Linked DNA regions of Homo sapiens. The protein of the gene in region 2 interacts with the protein of the main gene of each other region in a pairwise test. Each region holds a gene or a part of one and is shown on either strand. Other genes may lie near its edges.

The links.
Region 1: the proteins of TXLNB (region 2) and MNS1 interact in binary tests that used the Homo sapiens proteins (3 or more experiments, as listed by UniProt).
Region 3: the proteins of TXLNB (region 2) and DCTN2 interact in binary tests that used the Homo sapiens proteins (3 or more experiments, as listed by UniProt).
Region 4: the proteins of TXLNB (region 2) and KRT27 interact in binary tests that used the Homo sapiens proteins (3 or more experiments, as listed by UniProt).
Region 5: the proteins of TXLNB (region 2) and WASHC3 interact in binary tests that used the Homo sapiens proteins (3 or more experiments, as listed by UniProt).
Region 6: the proteins of TXLNB (region 2) and CT55 interact in binary tests that used the Homo sapiens proteins (3 or more experiments, as listed by UniProt).
Region 7: the proteins of TXLNB (region 2) and ZNF20 interact in binary tests that used the Homo sapiens proteins (3 or more experiments, as listed by UniProt).

What each region holds. Positions count from the first base shown.
Region 1 is NC_000015.10:56,444,638-56,448,137, forward strand, and holds part of MNS1 (meiosis-specific nuclear structural protein 1), read right to left. Parts: intron 2,307-3,500; coding exon 2,204-2,306; intron 1,247-2,203; exon of another isoform or gene 1,034-1,246; intron 37-1,033; coding exon 1-36. UniProt on the Homo sapiens protein: Microtubule inner protein (MIP) part of the dynein-decorated doublet microtubules (DMTs) in cilia axoneme, which is required for motile cilia beating.
Region 2 is NC_000006.12:139,260,999-139,264,498, reverse strand, and holds part of TXLNB (beta-taxilin), read left to right. Parts: intron 1-1,725; coding exon 1,726-1,920; intron 1,921-3,500. UniProt on the Homo sapiens protein: Promotes motor nerve regeneration. May be involved in intracellular vesicle traffic.
Region 3 is NC_000012.12:57,533,693-57,537,192, reverse strand, and holds part of DCTN2 (dynactin subunit 2), read left to right. Parts: intron 1-1,347; coding exon 1,348-1,444; intron 1,445-1,647; coding exon 1,648-1,709; intron 1,710-2,038; coding exon 2,039-2,137; intron 2,138-2,740; coding exon 2,741-2,901; intron 2,902-3,095; coding exon 3,096-3,240; intron 3,241-3,500. UniProt on the Homo sapiens protein: Part of the dynactin complex that activates the molecular motor dynein for ultra-processive transport along microtubules. In the dynactin soulder domain, binds the ACTR1A filament and acts as a molecular ruler to determine the length.
Region 4 is NC_000017.11:40,776,308-40,779,550, forward strand, and holds the end of KRT27 (keratin, type I cytoskeletal 27), read right to left. Parts: coding exon 3,195-3,243; intron 1,426-3,194; coding exon 1,208-1,425; intron 996-1,207; coding exon 946-995; intron 832-945; coding exon 692-831; 3' UTR 501-691; downstream 1-500.
Region 5 is NC_000012.12:102,037,992-102,041,491, reverse strand, and holds part of WASHC3 (WASH complex subunit 3), read left to right. Parts: intron 1-1,513; coding exon 1,514-1,624; intron 1,625-3,500. UniProt on the Homo sapiens protein: Acts as a component of the WASH core complex that functions as a nucleation-promoting factor (NPF) at the surface of endosomes, where it recruits and activates the Arp2/3 complex to induce actin polymerization, playing a key role in the fission of tubules that serve as transport intermediates during endosome sorting.
Region 6 is NC_000023.11:135,164,899-135,168,398, reverse strand, and holds part of CT55 (cancer/testis antigen 55), read left to right. Parts: intron 1-3,500. UniProt on the Homo sapiens protein: Plays a role in spermatogenesis, possibly acting in the regulation of the autophagy pathway.
Region 7 is NC_000019.10:12,130,850-12,134,100, forward strand, and holds the end of ZNF20 (zinc finger protein 20), read right to left. Parts: intron 3,137-3,251; coding exon 1,738-3,136; 3' UTR 501-1,737; downstream 1-500. UniProt on the Homo sapiens protein: May be involved in transcriptional regulation.

The DNA.
Region 1 (3,500 bases), on a different chromosome or scaffold from region 2:
TTCCATCATGGTTTTGGCTATTTCAGCATCACGTTTCTGTTATTAAAACAAAATTGATCTTTCCGTTTTCAAATTTGAACATAGTACGATAGTATATTTTACACCAATGTTATTGAATATTATAAAGTCTTTTACATAAAATAAATTTTTTCATCTGTCTAGGTTAAAAAGCAAAAGTAAGTTATTATTACCTGAAGGGTGTGAACAATAAGTCAGACCCTAAAGCAGCTTTCCTATCCCTTCAAGTAGCTCTCTCAGGACAATACCTGATAAGGATTATTAATAACTCCACATTCAAAAAACAATGAATACAATTGTAAGTAGTTTCTTAATAACTATTTAGCTGCTAAAGCAGTCATTATCTTATTATTCTATTTATAAACTGAGCTAGGCAATTTTCATCGTTTTTAGCTTCATTGTTTATCAGCTGCTATTTAAAGATGGTACTGCCTCTTTCTTACAGGTCTGCTATTAAATGGCTTTGAGCAGCTCTTAAGTTTCTCCTAGCCTAAACTTTCTTTCCTGCCATTGGCCCTTGACGTTTCCCCTTTCTGATTTATTAAAGGCCCTTTATCTGAAAAGAATCACAGATGCTACTGTGCCTATTTTCTACAGCTTTTAATTCACTCAAGACCATTCCCATTGTCAAGAGACAATCTTTCTTCTTGGATGGGTTAAACCCCTTATTTCTTTTGAGCATTTTTCAAATCATTTAATAAAATAAGTTTTAAATGAAATATACTGAGGCAATTTTTTAAACTACGCTTTACTTTTATGATCACATCCCGAATGATGGAATGGTCAGCAGCATCAAACATAAAGAGTAAACAGATTAAAATATGAATACTGAATGTCATTCCTGACGTCACTGAAGCCTTTAACATATACTCTGATAATATGACTTGACCAAAAATGTTTCTGATTATCTTCTTTGTACATGCTATACTAAATTCTTTATTAAAAAATGAGATGACAATAACATTTATGTGTAGATTACCACACACTTACCGAAAACAATGTTCTCATTTTACAGATAAGAAAACTAAGGCTCAGAGAAAAAGCCAAAACTAGTACTTGCATGACACCTAGTCAAGTCCTAGTAGTATTCGACTTTCATTTTGTGGATCAATTTTTATTTGGAAAATAGCAGCAATTCTCGTAGGAGTCAGATTAAAACGTCTACAACTACCTTGAATAACTTCAACTATCAGGATAATTAAAACTGCAAACCACTGGACAAACAGGACATTGTTTGTGCTACTTTCTTTTTCAAAGGACAGCGCTATATGGCTTAGCAAATGAAGTCTCTCCACCTTTTCTTATCACCTGCCACACCTAAAGGTATTCCTGTTAACAGCATGCTGTGTACCCGCTAGACATTTTCTATACTAACACAATTGTACACACGCAACACACACATATATGTGTCATTTATGGTATCTATTCTTAATTGATACCCATATTGCACTGCACTGGTTAAGTATTTTGATATCACCCCATAAGAGTGTGTGTGTGTGTACATATGTTTATGTGGACATACACAATAGATATGTATGTGTATATAAACATTCATATATAATTGGCCCTTCTGTTTGATAATGAGAGCTCAAGGGATGATGTGCACCCTTTTAATTAACTGTTAATTCAGTAAACCCTATTATATATTCATACAGCAAAGCACTCCTAGTGAGTATGCCTGAGATTCCTTTGCCCAAGAGTAACTCTTATCTTCAACTTGGTACCATATCAGGAGTTAGAAAAGGGGATAAAAGCAGAGAGAAACATGAGAAAAAGAGATGGCTTTTATAAAACTGGAAAGTTTCCTACATAAAATTATCAAGTAGTTTACTCTTAAAAACATTTAAATAATTAAAAATTTCATAACATTCTAAAATACACTTATCATGGTAACAATTTGTACTGTACTACTTTGTCAGTGAATAATCAGTTAGAGACTATAAAGAATGCTGGGAGTTACTGAATATAGCTGGTCATTCTAAGCAGCAATGTGTTTCTGAAAGGCTCTAATATTAAAAATGAAATCACGCAGGATTTTCTACATCTTAAGGATCTGAAAATTTACAAATATTTAAGAAATCTAGCAGTGTAAATTCTTTATACAATATGACAATTTTTTAAGAAACAAGTCTAATTTTTATTTTCTAAATGAAGCTAAAAACATAATGACCAGAAACATGATTACCATTTGTTCATATTTAATGGCATCCTTTTCAGCAATCTGAGCTGCCCTTTCTTTATTCATGTAAGCTGCTTTTAATTTCTTCTCCAATTCTCTAAGCTCAATGCTGTTTAAAAAAACAAAAACAAATTTAAATGTTAGGACCATAAGAGAATGAAAACCTCACAGAAAACTGAGTAACTGTATTTTTAATTTACTCAAAGAGGGAATACAGCGGGTATTATTTTAGATCCATAGGAGAAATAATTCATTATATTTAATGGATGCCTTTAGGGCATTAGGGCTTACATTTTCTGGTTGAAAAGTACTGCTCTGTTCTATTACATTCATCTGTTTGCTTATCCTGTGTCAATACCACACTATCTCAACTGCTGTAAATTATAATACGTCTACATATCATGGATAAGTCTCCAATTTTGGTCATCTTCTTAGAGACTGTCTTAGCCATTCTTGATACTTTCATTTCCATATACATTTTAGAATCAGCTTGTCAGACTTCACAATAAACAAAACTGGCTGTGATAGTACTGAATTCATAAATCAATTTGGAAAGTACTAATATCTTTACATTACTGAGTCTTCAATAAACATAGTATATCCTTCTAATTATTTGGTTTTTTAAAAGTCTATCGATGTTTATATCTGTGTTTTATTTTGGTAGTTTTATACTTTTCATTAGGTATTTTTCATATCCTTCTGTAGATTATTTTTCAAATCTCACTTTCTAATTGTTGATAATTTACAGAAATACAATTAATGTTTATATACTAAATTTATACCCAACAATATCACTGAATATATTTTTTAGTTTTCAGTTTTACTGATCTACAATATTCAATAAACTGAACATGTTTAAAGGATACAGTTTGATAAGTTTTTACATATGTATGCACCTGTGAAACCATCACCACAATCAAGATCATGAACACGTCCCAATCACTTCCTTATAAACCTGTGGTACCTCTCTTCTACCCCTTTATGTTCGCACTTATCCTGAGGCAAGCTAATTTGCTGTCACCTTAGGCAGTATAAATTTTCTAGAATTCATATAAATGGAATCATAGTGCAGGTACCATTTTTCTCTGGCTTCTTTCACTCAATATTTTCAAATACATCCATTTATTGCATATAGTAATTGCTTACTCCTTTTTATTGCAGGATATTATTTTAAGATTATAGATATCCACTCGCATTGCTTATCTATTCACATGCTGATAGACATTTGAGTTGTTTCAGGTATGTGGATATTGCAAATAAAGCTGCTATGGAAATTTGAGTACCAGTTATTTGTGGTCACAGG
Region 2 (3,500 bases):
GTTATGATTGTTTGTTTGACATTTATTTAGTGCCATCCTATCATCTGTACCTTCTTTCTATAGCCAGTTCCCAATTAAAAAAAAAACAACAACTCAGACTTGCATGGGGTGTTTCATTTATTCATTCATGGAATATTTATAAATACAAACGGTATTCAAATCATGGTCTGTAGTTCTGATTCCAAACTTGCTGACTTCTAAGCTAATCAGGACCAGTGAGGAAACAATCATAATCACACATATATTTAGTTGCTCCTAACTGGTAACCATAATTATTTTTAGCGAAACACATATAGTAAGTGTTAGTATACAAAGTTCAGGGAAATAACATCTCGGATAGTTTATTTCTTCAGTTTAAGAAGTACAGATATCTTCAATACCCCTGAGAAGTTGTTGCTTAATAAAGGTTTATAACATGAATAAATTATGATTCTGACATCAGGAGTCACATTAGAGTTGGGAAATGTGTTGTTATTATAGAGGAAAGAAGAAACCTAATGATAAAATATTTTCAGAGCATATATTCTCAGCATCAGTTTTTATTTGGATCACATTATTCTGTTATGATAAAGGTCTGTACAATTACTTCTGTTAAAAATTATTATTTCTTTTAAAAAATCCTGTTACATAATTTGAACTTGGTAGGCAATCAAATTCAGTATAATTTTACTTGCCAACAACGAAGCAAGCTTTCATATTAACAATTAATCAGAACTGAAAGGAATCCTAAAATGTCTGTATCATTTGTCAGCCACGTAAATGTCTCTATCTTTGGTAGGATGTAGCAAAATTAAACCCTTTTATTCAAAAAGAATAACAATCGCAAAGCAATTCTCAATATAGATATGGAGGAAATTGGAGCTCATTGTTAGTGGCTAGCAATGAATGGAGAGTTTTGATTTAGGAGAAAAGAGAACAGAAATGATATAAAAGTTAATTTGCAATTCTTCAATGTTAACAAAGCGGAAGAAGGAAAATTAGATGTTTCACTTTAGAGTTAAAGAAGATTTGAAACTTAATATTGCTTTCAGATTCAAAATTTACATTGAACATTTTAATTACCCTATGTGACACATTTAATGATTGTTCTTTCAAAAACAAAATAATATCCAGCATGTTTGGAAAGATTCCCTTTTATATTCTTGAATGGCTGTAATTGAGCTATGCTGTCTTAGTTTCCTTTTTTAAAGCTTTTTGATGAAAGTTTTTTCTCACAAATAGAAAATTTTTATTGTGATCACTTATATTTACAAAACTTGGTAATATAATTATGTGGTTAATATGCCATGGTTTTTACAGGGAAATATAAGATCTATTGTTCTCCCTTTACCAAACCAGAGAAACACATGATCTGTCTCATCCATCAGTAAACTCAAGTGGCCTTTTTTTCAGGCCACAGCCAAGAGATCAAAATCGTGTGACTGTGTGTTTGTTAGAAATCGCTGCAGTTCATTCACTCAGCAAGAGACGCATCATCTTTAAAACAAGTCTATTCATCACTGACTACAAATTCAAGGCCTTCACAGCACCTGTTCTGAGTAACTATGTACTCACAGCTGAAACCTTTACTCATACATTTATTTTGGGGCTGAGCAGCTTTAGCTCTAGAGAACTGAGAAAAAACATCCCACCTACTCTGCACACTTATCTCCTTTAGGTGACCTAATGCTGAGTTCTATAAACCCGGGGTGCATTTAAACAAAATGTTTTGCTTTTTATCCGCAGGAAGAGGCGCTTCAGCGGGCACGTGAGGAAGAAGAGAAAAGGAAGGAAATCACAAGCCATTTCCAGAGTACCCTCACGGACATCCAGGGCCAGATCGAGCAGCAGAGTGAGCGAAATATGAAGCTCTGTCAGGAGAACACAGAGCTTGCAGAAAAGCTGAAAAGCATCATCGATCAGTATGAGCTCAGAGAGGAGGTGAGAACCACATCAAACAACTTAGAACAGTACATAGATCCGGATCTGGGAGCTAAAGGTGGGAACTTGGTTAATAAGACAGTTACAGCCAGCCCTCTCAACTGATTAATATTTAGGATTGGATTTCCTTGACGAGCCAAAATGAAGACAGATGGTCTTACAAAATACCTGACTGAAAGTCATATGGGATTTCTTCAAAACTGGCATCACTACAAAGTAAAGGCAATAAATAGAAAGTGATAGGCTGTGGGCACAGTTTTCCTTGAAAATAATATTTCTCAGCCTTTTAAAAATCCTCTCTCTATAGCCAAAAATAACTCACGCACTCCCTCTTAAGAATTGCCATGTCATCTAAATTAAGAGTCTGTATTCTGGCCAGGCGCGGTGGCTCACGCCTGTAATCCCAGCACTTTGGGAGGCCAAGGCAGGTGGATTAAGAGGTCAGGAGTTCGAGAGCAGCCTGGCCAACATAGTGAAATCCCGTCTCTACTACAAATACAAAAAAAAATTAGCCAGGCGTGGTGGTGGGCGCCTGTAATCCCAGCTACTCGAGAGGCTGAGGCAGGAGAATCTCTTGAACCCAGGAGGTGGAGGTTGCAGTGAGCTGAGATCACGCCACTGCACTCCAGCCCAGGCGACAGTGTGAGACTCCGTCTCAAAAAAAAAAAAAAAAAAAAGAGTCTGTATTCTATGTACCCTACCAGGCCAATAATAGTATTAATAATGTAATCATTGTAATAATAATGATATCATTTATTCAGTGGTTAGTTTGTATCAGGCAATGTGCTAAGTGCTGTACTTTACATACCATATGGCATTTAATTGTCTCAACAATCTTATGCATTAGATAATAATATATTATCCATATCTTATAGATGAGAAGCAGAAGCTAAGAGATTAAACCACTTACCCACAGTCACAAGAGGCAAAAGCCTTTTACTTTGAATAGGTTATATTAGGGGGATGATCAAGGTCTTTTGTTATACCCAAATTATATTTTAATATTTAATATATTTTTAAGATTCCAGATACCCTCTCAGGATTTTGACACATCATATTCCTTTCCCTATCCCACCCAAATTTTAAATCTCTGCTTTAAAATGTAACATAACATAGTCAAAGCGGCTCTGTTGGTAACATGCTAAGATTTTATCAAGCACAAAACTGAGCCAACAGCATATGGTCGCGGTGGTTAGGTAAATCAAGAAACTCCTAATAGTAAGCCAAAATGCCATGCTACCATTTTATCTTGTCATAAGGATCAATCCCGCTCCAGAATGGAGGTTCAGACTAAAGAAGATAGGAAGGAGTGAAAGGAAAATGTCCATATTCTTCAGAGAGATCTCAGATGGGAATGGGCTGCTATGCTAGTTGTATATTCCTGGGACTGGTTCTAAGTAAAGCCCAAGGGGAGAATTCCATGTCCTGTTTCTGATTGGACCTCCCAGTGACCAGGAATTTATCCATCCTGAGGTAGAGTTGGAAGTTTCTCTTGACCAAACTAGTCCAGAGGTCAAAAGGTGTGGCGAGCTCTGCACATTTGCGACTCAATTTCTCTATGACCCTTGGCCTTGTCATCT
Region 3 (3,500 bases), on a different chromosome or scaffold from region 2:
CCAGCTATTTTATATTTTTTGTAGAGTTGGGGTTTCCCTATGTTGCCCAGGCTGGTCTTGAACTCCTGAGATCCACCCGCCTTGGCCGAACTTTGGGAGGCCGAGGCGGGTGGATCACTTGGAATTAGGATCCTCCCAAAGTGCTGGGACTACAGACAGGCTTGAGCCACCATTGCCCGGCTGTCTATTTAAAAAAAAAAAAAAATTATAAGTGATTCTAACATGCAGCCTGGGGTGAGAACCATTGTTCTAGGTGAAAGAAGGAAGGCTCATTTTGCCTTCCTCCCATAGAAGGTAGAGATGTCATCCCCAACAGAAAAGGACTCCTGGGTCTCCCTCCTACTTCCATCAGTACTCTGTTGGGAGCTGTCAGGCTTCTGACAATTGAAAAAGGGACATGCAGTCAGGAGTGCTTGGTGCAGTCTTGGTGTTGTCACTGGAATCTGAACAGCATGTAGATATCTAGTAAGGAGGGAACCTCTCTGCTTCAGTTTCTAGGGTGAAGTCTCTTTCACCGCCTACTTGTGTCCCCTGTTTTTGGAAGAGCTTCAGTGCTTAAAGCATAGCAGAGGAGTCAGGGAGAAAAATCAGGTGCTGCAGCGTCTCTGAAGAGATGCTGGTTTATCTCCATTTCAGAGCTTACATGTGGCTCTTGCCCATGGATACTCTTGGCAAGCAGATATTGCCTATGTTTGTTGCTTCTAAGATGTCCCATAAAGATAATCCAGTAAGCCCTTGCCCCTTCTCCCTGTCCCTGAGTTCGCTGGCCTCATGGCAGCCTGGAAATCAGGCTTCTGGTCAGGCCCTCTGTCGGCCTTCTTTTTGTACTAAGAGCTTGTGTCTTACCTTCAACAGGTTTAAAGTCCTAATATTCACACTCAGTGTTAGTGGCCTGATTATCTGCCTTCCCTCCTCTTTCCTTCTAGCAAGGATGGGAGGTTAGCATTAAAATGGACTTGCTCAGCGGGCAAGATTTACTTTTGGGAGGGGGAGGTTAAAAGAGGTCAGGTTGGTTTCTTGCCTTGAGTGCATGGCGTGTGCCAGACAACTGGGAGGGGTAGCATGGGGGGATGGGAAGGCTTATGTACAGAGAGGGTGGGGAGGTTATGCTCCCTCTGCTCCCAGTTGAATGAGGGTGTTAATATTTATACAACTGAGGCTCCAAATTTACCAGGAAGCTTCAGTTTCCTAGGTTAAGCCTGGGTAGGCGCCTTGGAATAGAGCCACCCTTCTTTCCCCTTGGACAAGTAGGGCCCAGTCACCTAATGGTTTGGGGATTTTGTGGGGTAGAGTAAGTTCTAGAGTGGGAATGAGTGTGTCCCTGGCCTAAACTACCTGTTCTTGCAGGAGGAGCTGACAAGCACAAGTGTGGAACACATCATTGTCAATCCTAATGCTGCCTATGACAAGTTCAAGGACAAGAGAGTGGGGACAAAGGGACTTGGTGAGACTGGGCTGGAAGCTGGGTGGGGGGAAGACTGGAGGATAAGCATGAGAAGTGGTTTCCTGTCCTAAAGTCTTAGTGAGTTGTGCTTGGGGGAAGGGGTCCCTCATGGAGATATTTTATGGAAGCCCTCACAGTCACCTGAGACCATGACTGCCTTGGGCCTAGATCAGGCCCTCAGTTCCATCTTCTTTTCTTGGCAGATTTCTCAGATCGTATTGGAAAAACCAAGAGGACAGGATATGAATCTGGAGAATATGAGATGGTTTGTTGTGTGTGTGTGTGTGTTGATGGGAATGGTGTAGTGACCCTATCTAGCAGACATGTAGTAGGGAGATCAAGGGATACAGGCGGGATTCTGTTCCTCCTCTGTTCCTGAGGAAGCAGCAGGATGCAGCCAGGGAAACTCTGCCCTACTGCTGTTTGTTCTGGAGAGCCTCCAGCCCTCTAGCTGTCCTCAGTTCTTTGGTACTAGGGTGTTGTGGATTCTCAATTGGATATGATACCTTTATGACTTAGGCCCAGGGTGTGGATGAATTCTTGAGGCTCCCTGTAATGAGACATATAACATTACCCTCTGTGCCTGCTCTCTAGCTTGGAGAGGGTCTGGGAGTGAAGGAGACACCCCAGCAAAAGTACCAGCGCCTACTGCATGAGGTCCAAGAGCTGACAACTGAAGTTGAAAAAATCAAGGTAACTACAAACTCTCTTCTCCCTTCTCTGCTGTGACTTACACAGTAGAGGAAGACCTCAAGCAAGAAGAGAAAGATTCCCTGCCTGGCTGGGTGCGGTGGCTCACGCCTATAATCCTACCACTTTGGGAGGCCGAGGCAGGCGGATCACCTGAGGTCAGGAGTTCAAGACCAGCCAGGCCAACATGATGAAACCCCATCTGTACTAAAAAAATACAAAAACTTAGCCAGGTGTGGTGGCGCATACCTGTAATCCCAGCTACTCGGGAGGCTAAGGCAGGAGAATTGCTTGAACTCGGAGGCGGAGGTTGCAGTGAGCCCAGATCATGCCACTGCACTCCAACCTGGGTGACAGAGCGAGACTCCATCTCAAAAAATGAAAGAAAGAAAGATTCCTTAAGCTCCTGGATAAAGGGGCTAAGGTTTCCAGAGTTTACAAATATGCATCCATCTGTATGCAGTGCTACATACAGGTGGGCAGTCTGTCATGCTGAAAACCATCCCAGTGACCTCCAGCTACAACTACCTTTAAAGGGCTTGACCTATTTTTTTGCTTCTTGATTCATTCTTGCCATCCCCCGATTTCTACCTTTTTTCATACTAGACGACAGTGAAGGAGTCAGCCACAGAGGAGAAGCTGACCCCTGTGTTGCTGGCTAAACAGCTGGCAGCCCTGAAGCAGCAGCTGGTTGCTTCCCACCTGGAGAAGCTGCTGGGACCAGATGCTGCAATCAACCTTACCGACCCCGATGGCGCCCTGGCTAAGTGGGTACCCTACTTTGTTGAAAAATCATTGCTGACTGGGGTTGTGGATGGACTCAGCCAGCTACTGACAGGGGTGCTAAGTGGCAGAGAAGTGGCTTAGATGTTTCTTAATGCTGATTATGAGGCAAAAGTGAGGGAGAGTGACTGGCCCTTCTCCTTCCAGTCATGATATTATTACTCGGTCTCCTAACTAGGCGCCTACTACTGCAGCTGGAAGCAACAAAGAACAGCAAAGGGGGATCAGGGGGAAAAACCACTGGGACCCCCCCAGATAGCAGCCTTGTCACTTATGAACTACATTCTCGGCCTGAGCAGGACAAGTTCTCTCAAGCTGCCAAAGTAAGTGTGGATACAGTGTTGGTTGGGAAGCCAAGGGGAGATGTGACCCTAGAGATTTTCCTGCCTCTCTCCAAGGAGAGGGTGCTGGGAAGGCTTCTGATTCCTCTGATTCCTCTTGATTGATTCCTCTTTTGATTCCTGATTCGTTGTTCTCTATGTTTCTTTCTTTTTTTTTTTTTTTTGAGACGGAGTCTTGCACTGTTTCCCAGGCTGGAGTGCAGTGGCGCAATCTTGGCTCACTGCAAGCTCCGCCTCCCGGG
Region 4 (3,243 bases), on a different chromosome or scaffold from region 2:
CCACATGGCTCTGCAGTCTTGGATGGCAAAAACGAAGGAGAGAACTTGTGAATTCCTACCGTTATGGTGGAGTGATCAAGATTATGAATTAGATGCCTGCTGGAATTCTCCTCTTACCCTTGTCCTCACAGCTCTCTTTTTCCCCTTCTACCTTCAAATATCACTACTTATAGCCTTTCCTTTATGTTTAAGTTTGTTTCTGATTCTTCAGGTTCTTATTTCTACATCTATGAGCATATTGACTTCAGGGACTGGATCTTATTAACTGTTTTATCCTCGTTATCTGGCACATAGCGTGTTCTCAGTAAGTACTTTTCGTACTGAGACAAAGGAGACAAAATTTTACAGAGAAGTCAAAAAGACTCCAACTAGTTTTCACATTAAACTTACTTCCAACTTGTGAAGACTGTTGAATTAAACAGAAGAAATTAAAGACAAAATTCAGCTTCCATTTGGGAGGGTATATCTAAAATGCAAAGATTGGCCAGAACCAGGGAAGATGACTTGCAACAGGAAGAACTTTTATTGAAACACCACCATAGAGAAAAAGCCAAAGAAATGGTACTATTCTAAAAATAACTTGTCTTAATTCATTGGAAGAAAAGCAGAAAAATAAGGGGACCCTTATTTAGGAAACTAGCTTCATTTTGGTATTTTAATTTGGGGGCCATTCTGTCTCAGAGGCTGGAGTTCAGGAAGACACCCTCTGTTCATTCTTGTTGTTGACTTTGGTGGATTTCTCTTCCACAGTGTGAACTCTGGATGAGAGAACTTTGCCACGAGGATCTATCTCTTCAACAACTGTTTTGACAATGGTGGTTTTAGATGAATCTAAAATGCCACATATAAACTGTTTAGAATTTATCAAATTCATAAATAGGAAATAAAACATCATTTGAAACACATACAAATAAACACTGAATGCCTAACACAGCTTTTGTTTACCTTTTGTTTGATTTCCTGGGCCTCCATAGCCTTTTGATTTAGAACAGGAGCTGTAAAAGTATAGAGCGCTTATATTAATTATTCTGTTTTACTGAGGAAACTGAAAAATAATGATTTAAGGTGGGAATTCACTGCATTCTGAAATAACACTAAAAGAGTATTATCTATGCGTGATCTAGATCATAGATATTTTGTACTTGATTTCAAATCATCTTTAGTAACCTTAAAAATGAATTGTTTTCTCAATGGCGGCAATACTGACCCATCTTCTCCATCTATCAGGAGGCAGTAGGTCTCAATTTCTTTTTCCAGGTGGACCTTGATGTCAAGGAGCTGCTCATACTCGAGCTTCTGGCCCTCGGTCTCGGTTCTGACCTGGTGCAGCTGCTCCTCCAGGGCCCCGATCTGAGCCTGGATCTGTGCCAGCTGTGCACAGTAGTTACTCTCGGTCTCTGTCAAGGAGCACTCCAGGGAGTGTTTCTGTAGTTTGGTAAGACATGGTTTAATAGAAAAGGTCACGGTGTTTTAGAATAAGCCAAAGCATTTAAGAGATAATTAAGAGAATTATCCTTACATCATGCAAATAATTATATTTACCCAAAAGATTCCACTTCTTCAATATTAATTGTTGCCTTTATTAAATGTCCTACTACTTTTCTATTTGAGAATGACACAGCTGGTGCTGAATGTCCCTCAGATGCCCAGGTGTGCTAAAAAAGATGAAATTGTCTCTTCATAGGGCACAGACTGAAAGATCCCTCCCCTGCACCAATATAGCCTGTGCTTGTAGAGTGTGGCACAATTTGCTACTTTACCCACAACTAGAAGTCCGCCTATACTTTGCTACTCATTTCTAGCCATGTGACAGTCTTGTCTTATGAGGATTGTAGCTCTTCTATTAAAAAGTCATCCTGCAGTAAACCGCATAAACGTTCCATGAGTAGAATAAACCACAGAAAATAATTACCTTCTTAGACTTTAAATACAGTAGTTCAATTCATTGGCTTGTGAATCTGAATGGGTTTACAGATATACTCAGAGGGAACACTCACTGCAATTTTACATGGAATGAAGATGAGAGTGTCTTATCCTTTCACCTGCAAGTATTTTTTATATAAAGTCTTGATTTTATATACATTCATAGCCTCATCTGTGGATAAACTCTGGTGGTTTACTAGCCATAGTGGGAAAAGTATAGACTTGGGAGTTAGAAAATTTGGAGAGAACTTCTGGATTCCTTCATACCCAACTGTGGGACTGTGGGAATTGCTTAACTTCTTCGAATCTCAGAGTCCTCTTTTGGAAATAATGACATGAGTTATAACGTCTGCCCTGCCCATGCCCCGGGGTTGTTGTGGACTCACATGTGGGCGGAAGTGCTGGGCAAACCCTTAATGAAAGCAGTTATGATTATCATTACACATGTTTAGTTTTATAGTCAGCCTTCATGCCTCGACTTTTCCTCTGTCTATGCCACTTACAAAGGAACTTGTAAGTGCTCTTAATTGAGTGGCCAAAAGGAATGCTAGATGAAGCTAGGAGTGGTGCAAATGTATTTTTGCTCTCTTTAAGCAGTAGGATTTTTTTTCTTTTTTTTTAAATGGACACATAAGAATTGTATATATTTATGGGGTTCCATAATTATATTTCAAAACACACAATGTGTAGTGATAGAATCAGGGCAGTTAGCATATCCATGGTCCCAAACATTTATCTTTTTTGTGTGTGTTGGGAACATTCAAAATCCTCTCCTTGAACTATTAGAAATTATAGAATAAATTATTCTTAACTGTAGTCATTCTACAGTACTATAGAACACTTGAACTGATTCTCCCTATTTCTCTGTAATTTTGTATCCTTTAACCAACCTCTTCCTATCCCCCCATCCCCTTCCCAGGCTCTAGTAAGCACTTATCCCACTCTCTACTTCTGAGATCAACTTTTTTAGCCTCCACATATGAGTGGTTTTTGATATTTTGACTTATGATAGAAGATTCAAAGTCAAAACGATTTTCTTTTTCCAGTATCTTGACTGTATTTGCTAATTTCTAATATTTCATAATTATTGGCATCCAGCTATACTTTGTAGGCAAAGAGGATTGTCATGTGCAAAATGCAAATATGTCTTATGTCAAGCACTGTAATTAATGGTTAAAAACTAAAATATGTAATTATGTTGGAAGAAAATTCTCTTCGATTATTTTTTTCTCAATTTCTAAAGCAAATCTGTTTTGTAACTTTTCGCTTACCGTTGCTAAGAGGGACTGAAGTTCAATCTCAAGGGTTTGAAGAGTGCGT
Region 5 (3,500 bases), on a different chromosome or scaffold from region 2:
TCATGGTTCAGATTTCATCATTATTCACAATAGAATATCCAATTGTGCAGAGTGAGATTGATTTGAGAATAAATGAAGGACAGTTGAGAGATATGATAGAGGATTTAATGGGTCATTCAAATAGCAAAGGTGTAATACATTTCATAATTAAACCTTGTTGAGGTCTTGGTTATTAGGCAAAAGTTAACGACTGAGAATTGATATCTGGCCAGGATGTAGTTCATTTGCACCATTTTGCTATTATATGAGTTTAATTTCCATAAATTGTTAAAAAACATACTTGGTTATTGTTTTAATTTTTTATTTAATTAACAGTGTTTTGGAATTTTTGTATTTGTATTATAGATGAATATGTGTGTGTGTGTGTGTATATATATGTATATATATATACTCACTTTGGTAAAACTTAGCAATATCATGTAACAGAAGAAACCTAAAGGATTTTTGGATGTTTATTTGCTTTGTAGTTTTTGACAGATTTAATTTATATTTGAATTATCTGAGGAAAAACTTCAATATGTAATTCACATTCATAGTCTAAAGACTATGAAGATATAAAGATATTGATTTATCTACATTTCAGAATGAACAATAGACATAAAATTGATTTCTTCTAAGGAAATTCTTTTAATGCTTATATACAGATAATGAGAGAGATTCACCAAAGTAAGCTTTTTCTAAATGTTTGGTTTGATAGAAAAATCAAGTACTGTATACAGGCAGTTCTATCTAGTTTTGCATTTAAGCAAGGATATGGTTCTCATATGCACAAGTTTCAGTAACATGGTACCATGCAAAATGAAGACTGCCTGTATAACAATAGCATTTTTATCTAAAAAGACCATTCCCCAGTATTCTTTATTGTAAGTCATATTTAGTATGACATTATGACTTTTAACCACTCTGTAGACAATGTTACCATTAATAGTTCCATCAGTATCTGAAATGTATAAAACCAGATAATTTTGTCTGACAAACTGGCTTCTCTTTTACAACTTCTCCAAAAATTGCTTTCTAAAAGTTAGAAGAGCCATGTCCACTTAGAATAAAATGATTTAATAAATAAAGGGCTCAATTAGGTAGATTCTAGATACCTAGGAAATCAATTCATCATTATCTCAATAAATTTATTATTAATTTGTAAACAGTTGATAGTTTTATTAGCTTTCTTAAAAGTTTTGTTAAAATAGTATCACCACCTATATATAATTCATGCTTTGTATCAGCACTCTGGGGACAAGTAAAGCAGAATTTTTATTTTAATGCATGAATATACTTGCATTTTAAGGAACCAATATAGTGTTGAAATGTAACCTTCTCTGAAATGATATTTAAATATTTGTAGATATTTGGAAACATATCTCATATTAAATTATTGGTATTTAAATTGGGGGAGATGATTTTTTTCTGCAATTTACTGCCTTAGAATTATGGAAAGAAACATTCCTTTTAAGTAACATGATAGACCCCTTTTGTAAATTGTCTAAAGATTTACACCAAATACTCTCTACAGCAGAACAGTACACAAGACTCTGGACTACAGGAAAGTGAAGTATCAGCAGAAAATATCTTAACTGTAGCCAAGGATCCAAGATATGCCAGATATCTCAAAATGGTTCAAGTGGTAAGCTAACTTGGTCTGTCTTCTTTGTGTAGCAGCCTCACTTGAAATTCTTAACCCTGGAGGTTTTACTGTTATTTTTTTCAATCTGAGAAAACTGCTAAACCAAGTAACCAAGTTTTCTATTCTCTTACTTCCTTTCTATTTTAATTCTCTGATTAAAAAAAAAAAAGGAAGTCAAATCTTTAGAATTGATCCCACACTTTAAATTAACATAGTTTAATATAGATTTATGTACATTTTTTTGCATTACACAAAGTTATCAATGCAAATCTTAGATACAGAAAGTAATGAAAGTAGACTATTCATTTGGTAAATCAGTTGACTCTAGCTTAATCCCCATATTATTAGCACAAATAATATTTTTTAAAAATTTTTATGTTTATCAATGATCTCTTGGCCATGTGTAATGCTTTTAATATTATATGACTTCAGAATTCATATTTTTCCTGAGAAATCATAACATGCTGTGGTACCAAAAATATCTGCAGTTGTCTGTGATAGCAGAAGCTAACATTTTTTTATTCCTTTAGAAAGTATTTCAGTAGTTGAAAGAGGTAGTTGTCCATCATTTTTCTGTTAATCAAACAGTTAAAGCCTGGCGCAGTGACACACACCTCTAATCCTAGCACTTTGGGAGGCTGAGGTGGGAGGATGACTTGAAGACAGGAGTTTGAGACCAGCCTGGGCAACAAAGCAAGACCACCTACTTCTACATTAAAAAAAAAAAAAAAAAAAAAAACCTAACTCCATATGATGGCATGCACCTGGTAGTGCCAGCTACTCAAGAGGCTGAGGTGGGAGGATTGCTTGAGCCCAAGAGTTCAAGGGTGCAGTGGCTCACCTCACTGATTGTGCCACTGTACTTCAGCGTAGGTGACAGAGCAAGACCCTGTCTCAAAAAATAATAATAATAATAATAATGCTTTTGTAAAATTATATTATCAAGCAAAAGAAGCACAATACTAATACTAAAGGACAGTTTTGTTTTGCTGTCCATGGGATAGTTTATCACCTAGTAATTTAAAAGCAAATTCTGACAACCAGAAAGAGTAGATTGGCTCATTTGGAAGCTGCACTTTTCCTAGCTATCAGAAGTGGATTTTTCACTTCCACAGTTCTTTTTTTCTGAAGCCTAGAGCTCAGGATATTGGCGGTCAATTTAGAAAAAAATAAACCAGACTTTGGGATGAAAATAGATGAAGTTTTTTTAATTAACAAGAATAAAACAAAGCCAGTTTAAGTATGAATCATGATGAACACGTTTTTAAAGCTAGAACCCAGGAAAGCCTAAGCTTAAAAGATAGACTTGTTAAAAAACAACAACAACAACAACAACAACAAAAACTATTTCACTCTTTTAAACAAAAGGGAGATGCTTCTAAATGACTCAGAAAGATTTTTTATGTTAGCCCCTTCTTGCCAAACCTATATAAAATAACAAACAGGAAAATCTACTAGGTGATACTCTGTAAAAATGCCCTGAAATCTTTATGAAGGCTGCATCTTAGGATAACTGTTAAATTCTTGATAATTGTCTTCAATTTTATAAGAACTTCAAAAAATCTTTTTCTTTTTAAATCCACCATCTGTTTATTTCACAAATATTTATCAAACACTTACTTGAAGCTAAGCTACTGTATTAGGTATTATCTAGATTTATTTAGCCAACTAAGGTTTCCAGATACCACTTGCAATTTTTATTTTTGTTACTAATTACGTCAACAAGTTCAATTGCTTTTCAGTCATAAATATACATATAAAATAAATGACCCGGGCCGGGCATGGTGGCTCACTCCTGTAATCCCAGCACTTTGGGAGGCCGAGGCGGGCGGATCACTTGAGGTCGGGAGTTTGAGACCAACCTGACCAACATGGA
Region 6 (3,500 bases), on a different chromosome or scaffold from region 2:
GAGATCAACTTTTTTATCTTCTGCATGTGAATGTGACCGTGCAGTATTTGTCTTTGTGTGACTGGCTTATCTCACTTACATATCATTCTCCAGGTTCATCCAGGTTATTTCAAACGGCAATATTCTGTTCTGTTTTATGGCTGAATAGCATTCCCTTGTGTATTTATACCACATTTCCTTTATACACTCATCCGTAGATGGACACTTAGATTGCTTTCATTTCATAGCTATTGTGAATAGGGCTGCAACAAACATGGAAGTGCTGACATCTCTTTGACACACTGATGACACTCTCTTTGGATACATGCTCAGTAGTGGGATTCATGGATAGTGTGATAGTTCCATTGTTAAAATATTGGGGAATGTCCATACTGTTTTCCATGGTGGCTGTAACAATTTACATCCCACCAACCGTGCATAAAGCTTCCAATTTCTCCACATCCTTGCCAACACTTGTTATATCTTGTCTTTTTAATGTTAGCCATTCTAACATGCGTGACTCGGTATCTCTGTGGTTCCGATATGCATTACCCTGATGATTAGAGAAGGTGAGTGTTTTTTCACATGCCTGTTAGCCATTTGTATGTCTCCTTTTGAGAAATGTCTATTCAGGTCTTTTGCTCATTTTTAATAGGATTATTTGTTTTCTTGCTATTGTGTTGTTGGAGTTACATTTTGGAAACTGACCCCTTACTAGATACATAGATTGTCAATGTTTTCTCCTATCGCATAGATTGTCTCTCCACTCTTTGATTGTTTCCTCTGTGGTGCAGAAGCTTTTTAGTTCAATGTAATCCCATTTGTGTATTTTTCCTTTTCTTGCCTTTGCTTTTGAGGTCCTGTTTTTAAAATATCGTTGCCCAGAACAATGTCATGGAGCTTTCCCCCTATGTCTCCTTCTAGTAGTTTCACAGCTTTGGGTCTTCATTTTAAAGCTTTAAATCATTTTGAGTTGATTTATATACACGCTGAGAGATAAGGGTGGAAATTCATTTTTCTCAGATGAATATCCAGTTATTTTCAACATCATTTATTGAAGAGACTGTACTTTCTCAACATTGTGTGTTCTCGGGCCTTTTGTCAAAAATTAGTTGACTGTAAATGCACAGATTTAATTCCGGGCTCTGTATTCTGCTCCATTGGTTGATGTGTCCGTTTTTATACTGGTACTGTGCTGTTATGCTTACTATAGCTTTGTCATATGTTTTGACATCATAGTGTGATGCCTCCAGCTTTGTTCCTTGTATTCCAGACTGCTTCAGCTGTCTGGAATCTTTCATGGTTCCATACAAATTTTAGGAGTATTTCTTCTATTTCCAAGAAGAATGTCATTGGTATTTTCATAGCAGTTGCATTGAATCTATAGATTGCTTTAGGTTACGGACATTTTAACAATATTTTATTCTTCCTGTTCATGAACACATGATATATTTCCATTCATTCCTGCCTCCTTCAATTTGCTTCGTCAATGGTTTATAGTTTTCAGTGTTGCAATCCTTCACCTCCTTGGTTAAATTTATTCCTATTTTAATTTTTTTGAAGGTGTTGTAAATGGGATTGTTTCTTGATATCTTTTCCAGATAGTTCCCTATTGGTGTATAGAGATACTACTGATTCTTGTATGTTGGTTGTGTCTCATGCCACTTTCCTGAATTTGTTTATTAGACCTAGTAGCTGTTTGGTGGTGTCTTCAGGGTTATTTATAAGTAACAGCTTCCCGTCTGCAAACAGGGCCAATCTAAATTCTTCCTTTTGAATTTAGATGCCTTTTGTTTCTTCTTGCCTAATTTCTCTGGTTAGCACTTCCAGAACTATGTGCGATAGAAAGGGCAAAAGTGGGCATTTCTGTCCTGTTCCAGGTCTTAGAGGAAAAGCCTGCAACACTTCCCCATTCAGTATGATGTTATCTGTGGGTTTATCATATATGACCTTTATTGTGTTGAGGTGCACTCCTCTTATACCTAATTTGTGGAGTTTTTAGTCACGAAGAGGTGTGGAATTCAATCAAATGCTTTTCCTGCTGAAATTGGAATGAACCTATGGCTTTTTTCCTTCATTCTTTTCACGTGATATAGCACATTTATTGATTTGTGTATGTTGAAACTTCCCTGCATCCCAGGGATGAAGTCCTCTAGAACATGGTGAATGATTTTTTTAATGTGCTGTGGAAATTGCTTTACTAATACTTTGTTAAAGATTTTGCAACTGTGTTGATCAGGAATTTTGGCATGTAGTTTTTTTTGGTTTTCTCTTCTTTCTGTTTCCTCATCTGGGTTTTCTACCAGGGTAATGCGTTGTGACAGAATGAGTTCGGAAGTGTTCGTCTCTTGTCCGTTTTTTTTTTTTTTTTTTTTTTTTTTTTGGAATAGGTTTAAAAGTATAGCTATTAATTATTCTTCTTTATATATAAATTTGGTAGTATTAGGAAGGGAAGTCATTCTGTCTTGGACTCTTCACTGATGGGGGATTTTTTATTACTGAATCACTTTCCTTACTCATTAATGGTCTGTTCAGATTTTCCATTTCTTCACCATTACATCTCGGTAGGTTGTATGTGTCCAGGAATGTAGCCATTTCTTCTAGCTTGTCCTATTTGTAGGCAGATGATTGTTCATAATCTTCCTTATGATACGTTTTGTTTTGGTGATGTCATTTGTGCTGTGTCCTTTTTCATCTTTGATTTTAGTTATTTGAATCTTCTCTCTTTTTTCCTTAGTCTAGCTAAAGTTTTGTTGATTTGCTTTACCTCTTCAAGAAACCAAGTCATTGTTTCATTGATATTTGTATTGTTCTTCTCATTTCTATTCATTTATTTCTGCTCTGACCTTTATGATTTCTGTCCTAATTTTGCATTGCATTTTTTTCTTGTTTTTCTAGTTCCCCAAGGTGCAGTGTGAGGTTGTTTATTTAAGATGTATCTTTTCTTTTGAGGTAGGTTTTATTGATGTAAACTTCACTTTTAGAATTGCTTTTGCTGTATTTCATGGGTTTTCGTATGTTGTGCCTTCATTTTGCTTCAACTCAAGAAATGTTTACACTTTGCTTCTAATTTCTTCATTGACCCATTGGTTATTTAGGAGCATGTTGTTTAATTTCCATCCACTTCTAAAGTTTCCAAAGTTCCTACTTTTATTGATTTCTAATACTTTACCGTTGTGGTTAGAGAACTGATTTGATGTTATTTCAAATTCCCTTAATTTGCTAGTACCTGTTTTATGACCTGCCCCATAATCTATCCTCGAGAATGTTCCACATGCAGTTGGAAAGAATATGTGTTTTGGAGTATTTGGATGGAATGTTCTGTAAATGACTGTCAGGTCCATTTGGTCCGGAGTGCAGATAAATCCCACTTTTTGTGGGGTCAATGTTCTGTCGGGACAATCTGTTCATTGCTGCAAGTTGGGTGTTGAAGTCCCCTACTATTACTGCATTGCACTCTATCTCACCATTTATACCTTAATGTCTGCTTCATATATTTAGGTGCTGCTATGTTGGGTGCA
Region 7 (3,251 bases), on a different chromosome or scaffold from region 2:
GAAGTCTGATGGCTGGCCTCCCCTCGCCAGAAGGCCGAGTCTTTTGCCCCTGAACAGGCACATGTCATACACCTGCAATGTGAGATGATGCTCTTCAGTGACCATGATGGATCAATACAAAAATAACTAATTCTTGGCAGGGCACAGTGGCTCATGCCTGTAATCCCAGCACTTTGGGAGGCCGAGGCGGGTGGATCACGAAGTCAGGAGATCGAGACCATGGTGAAACCCTGTCTCTACTAAAAATACAAAAAATTAGCCAGGCGCGGTGGCGGGCACCTGTAGTCCCAGTTACTTGGGAGGTTGAGGCAGGAGAATGGCGTGAACCAGGAAGCGGAGCTTGCAATGAGCCGAGATCGAGTCACTGCACTCCAGCCTGGGCGACAGAGCAAGACTCCGTCTCAAAAAAAAAAAAATTAAAATAAAAAAAAACCTCATTCTTTAACCATGTCTTGAAATGTGACAGAAGAAAACACTTTAAATTGCAAACATACCCCAAATTTTTCTCTTCTCACGAAATGTGACTATCTTTTAATATCTCACACATCTCACAGTCATCTATGGCTTTTGGTCATATTCATTACCACAGTATATTATTACACCCTCTTTGACGACACTTATGCCACTGGTGGTCTTTGGTCAGAAGTCACTCATAAGAACATGAGATCACCTTTGGTATTTAGAATAGATGAAAATTCATGATCCAGATAAAAACTAAGAATATAAGCATGAAAAGTAAAATCTACATGAGGAAAAATATGCCTGACATCCACATGGCAACACTGACTCACAGTGACCACCGGATAACATGGTAACATTATCAACTTGATCTAATACATGATGTTAATGGGAGGTTGTAATGTAGCTTCTTCATTAAAAAATAATAATTGTTAGTATGCAGTTGTTATAAACAGTTAATAAGCTTATTTCTAAAATACATGAACAGAAGTATTTGTTGCCAAGAAACCGCATTAGTGTTTTTAGTCAGGTATACTCATACAAAGTTAAAAACGAAGTGAGACATTACATTCAGTTGTGAATAACAGCAAATGCTTGAAATTTCCTGATAAGAGCAAGGTGGCTCTTCTCACATAAAAGCCCTTGGTGAGACCAATCACTGCACAATGCAGCAGAGGAACAAGCTCCCATCTAGTTGGTTTAATCAAGAACAGGCTCGCTAATCCGTAGAAACAACAATGCTTGCAATACAAAGTAGACCTCTTAAACCAACTCAATCTATAGAAGAGTTGGGCATCAGTGAGTATTTCCAGCCATAACAACATTTATTAGTTCTCTGGTAAACATTTTAACATTTCTGAAGAAACAGCAAAGTGGGCATGTATCTTTAATGTGGAGCACTGGGGACATATCTGGAGACCTACAACTCTGAGGAACAGAGACAAGTGATTTGGGGGATATTCTCGATTAACAAGCCAAAGAATCAGGAAAATGGGCTGGAAGCGGGTAGCCACACACCTCTCTCCCTGTGTGGGGCCTCTAATATGTGACTGATGCCTTCCTTTTCTGTGCCTTTGAAATCTCATGCAAGATTGGCTATAGGTGAATTGTATTACGAAACCATCCAAGTTCTTCTAGATTTTATTGTCCTATCGCAAGTCTCTCTTCTCAATTCAAAAAGCAGTTATCCAGAGGTTCTTTCACCACTCTCTTTTCTTGTGTTTCAAAGGAAGTGGGACAACAGAAAGCTTCTCCCGTTGCTTCCACTAAAAGGATTTCTCATCTATTAATGGTATGAGTTCTTTCATGTTCTCGACATGAACTGGCACGAATAAAGGCTTTGCCACATTGCTTGCATTGATAGGGTTTCTCTCCAGTGTGAGTCCTTTCATGATATCGAATGTAATTGGAAATAAAGGCCTTACCACAGTGCTTACATTCATAGGGTTTCTCTCCAGTGTGAGTCCTTTCATGATATCGAATGGAACTGGAACAAGTGAAGGCTTTGCCACATACCTTACACTCATATGGCTTATCTCCAGTGTGTGTCCTTTCATGTATATGCAAGGAAGAGAAATACCTGAATGCTTTTCCACATTGCTTACATTCATGGGGCTTCTCTCCAGTGTGCGTCCTTTCATGTATACGCAAGGAAGAAAAATACTTGAATACTTTTCCACATTCCTTACATTCATGGGGTTTCTCTCCACTGTGCGTCCTTTCATGAATTTGAAGTTGTGAAGCACATCTAAAGCCTTTCCCACACTGCTTACATCCATAGGGTTTATCCTCAGTGTGTGTCTTTTCATGCCTTTGAAGGTCCGAGGTACATCTGAAGGCTTTACCACATTGCCTACATTCATAGGGTTTCTCTCCAGTGTGAGTCCTTCCATGCTTTTGAAGGTGTGAGCCACATCTAAAGGCTTTCCCACACTGCTTACATTCATAGGGTTTCTCTCCAGTGTGAGTCATCTTATGATACTGAATGGAACTGAAAGAAATGAAGACTTTCCCACATTGCTTACACTCATAGGGTTTTTCTCCAGTGTGAGACCTTTTATGTCTACGAATTTCACTAGGAAAACTGAATGCATTCCCACATTCTTTACATTCATCGGCATTCACTCCTGTGTGAGTTCTTTCATGTACTGGAAGGGTAGTGGAACGAGTAAAGGCCTTACCACATTGTTTACACTTATATGGTTTCACACCAGTGTGAATTCGTTCATGGATAAGACATAAATTGAGAAAATAGAAGGCTTTCCCACAAAACTTACATTTATAAGGTCCATCTCCACTGTGCATTACCCTGTGTCTTTGAATGCATGAATGGGAAATGAAGGTTTCTGTACATTCTTTACCATCATAGGGTTTCTCTTTAGTGCAAGCTTTATCATGTGATTGAAAGGAGTCAAGATAACTGAAGGCTTTCTTACATTCCTTATTTCTATATGGATTCTCTCCATATTCCTGATACTCAGATGACTTGTGTCCAGTGTCAGCTCTGATATGCGTATTAAGAGATGAATGACCCGTGCCAACTTCTCCACACACACTGCTTTCACATGGTGTTATTCCAGGAAGAGTTTTCCTGTTCAGCATGTCATCTGCAATCTGGTTGAAGCTTTCTCCACAGTGATGACTTTCTTTACTTTCACAGAGTTTCTCTCTCATAAGACTTCAGTGAAAAATGAGAAGCACATTATTAACGGTTTGATTAAAAGTGACTTATAGGGCCGGGCACAGTGGCTCACTCCTGTAATCCCAGCACTTTGGGAGGCTGAGGTGGGCAG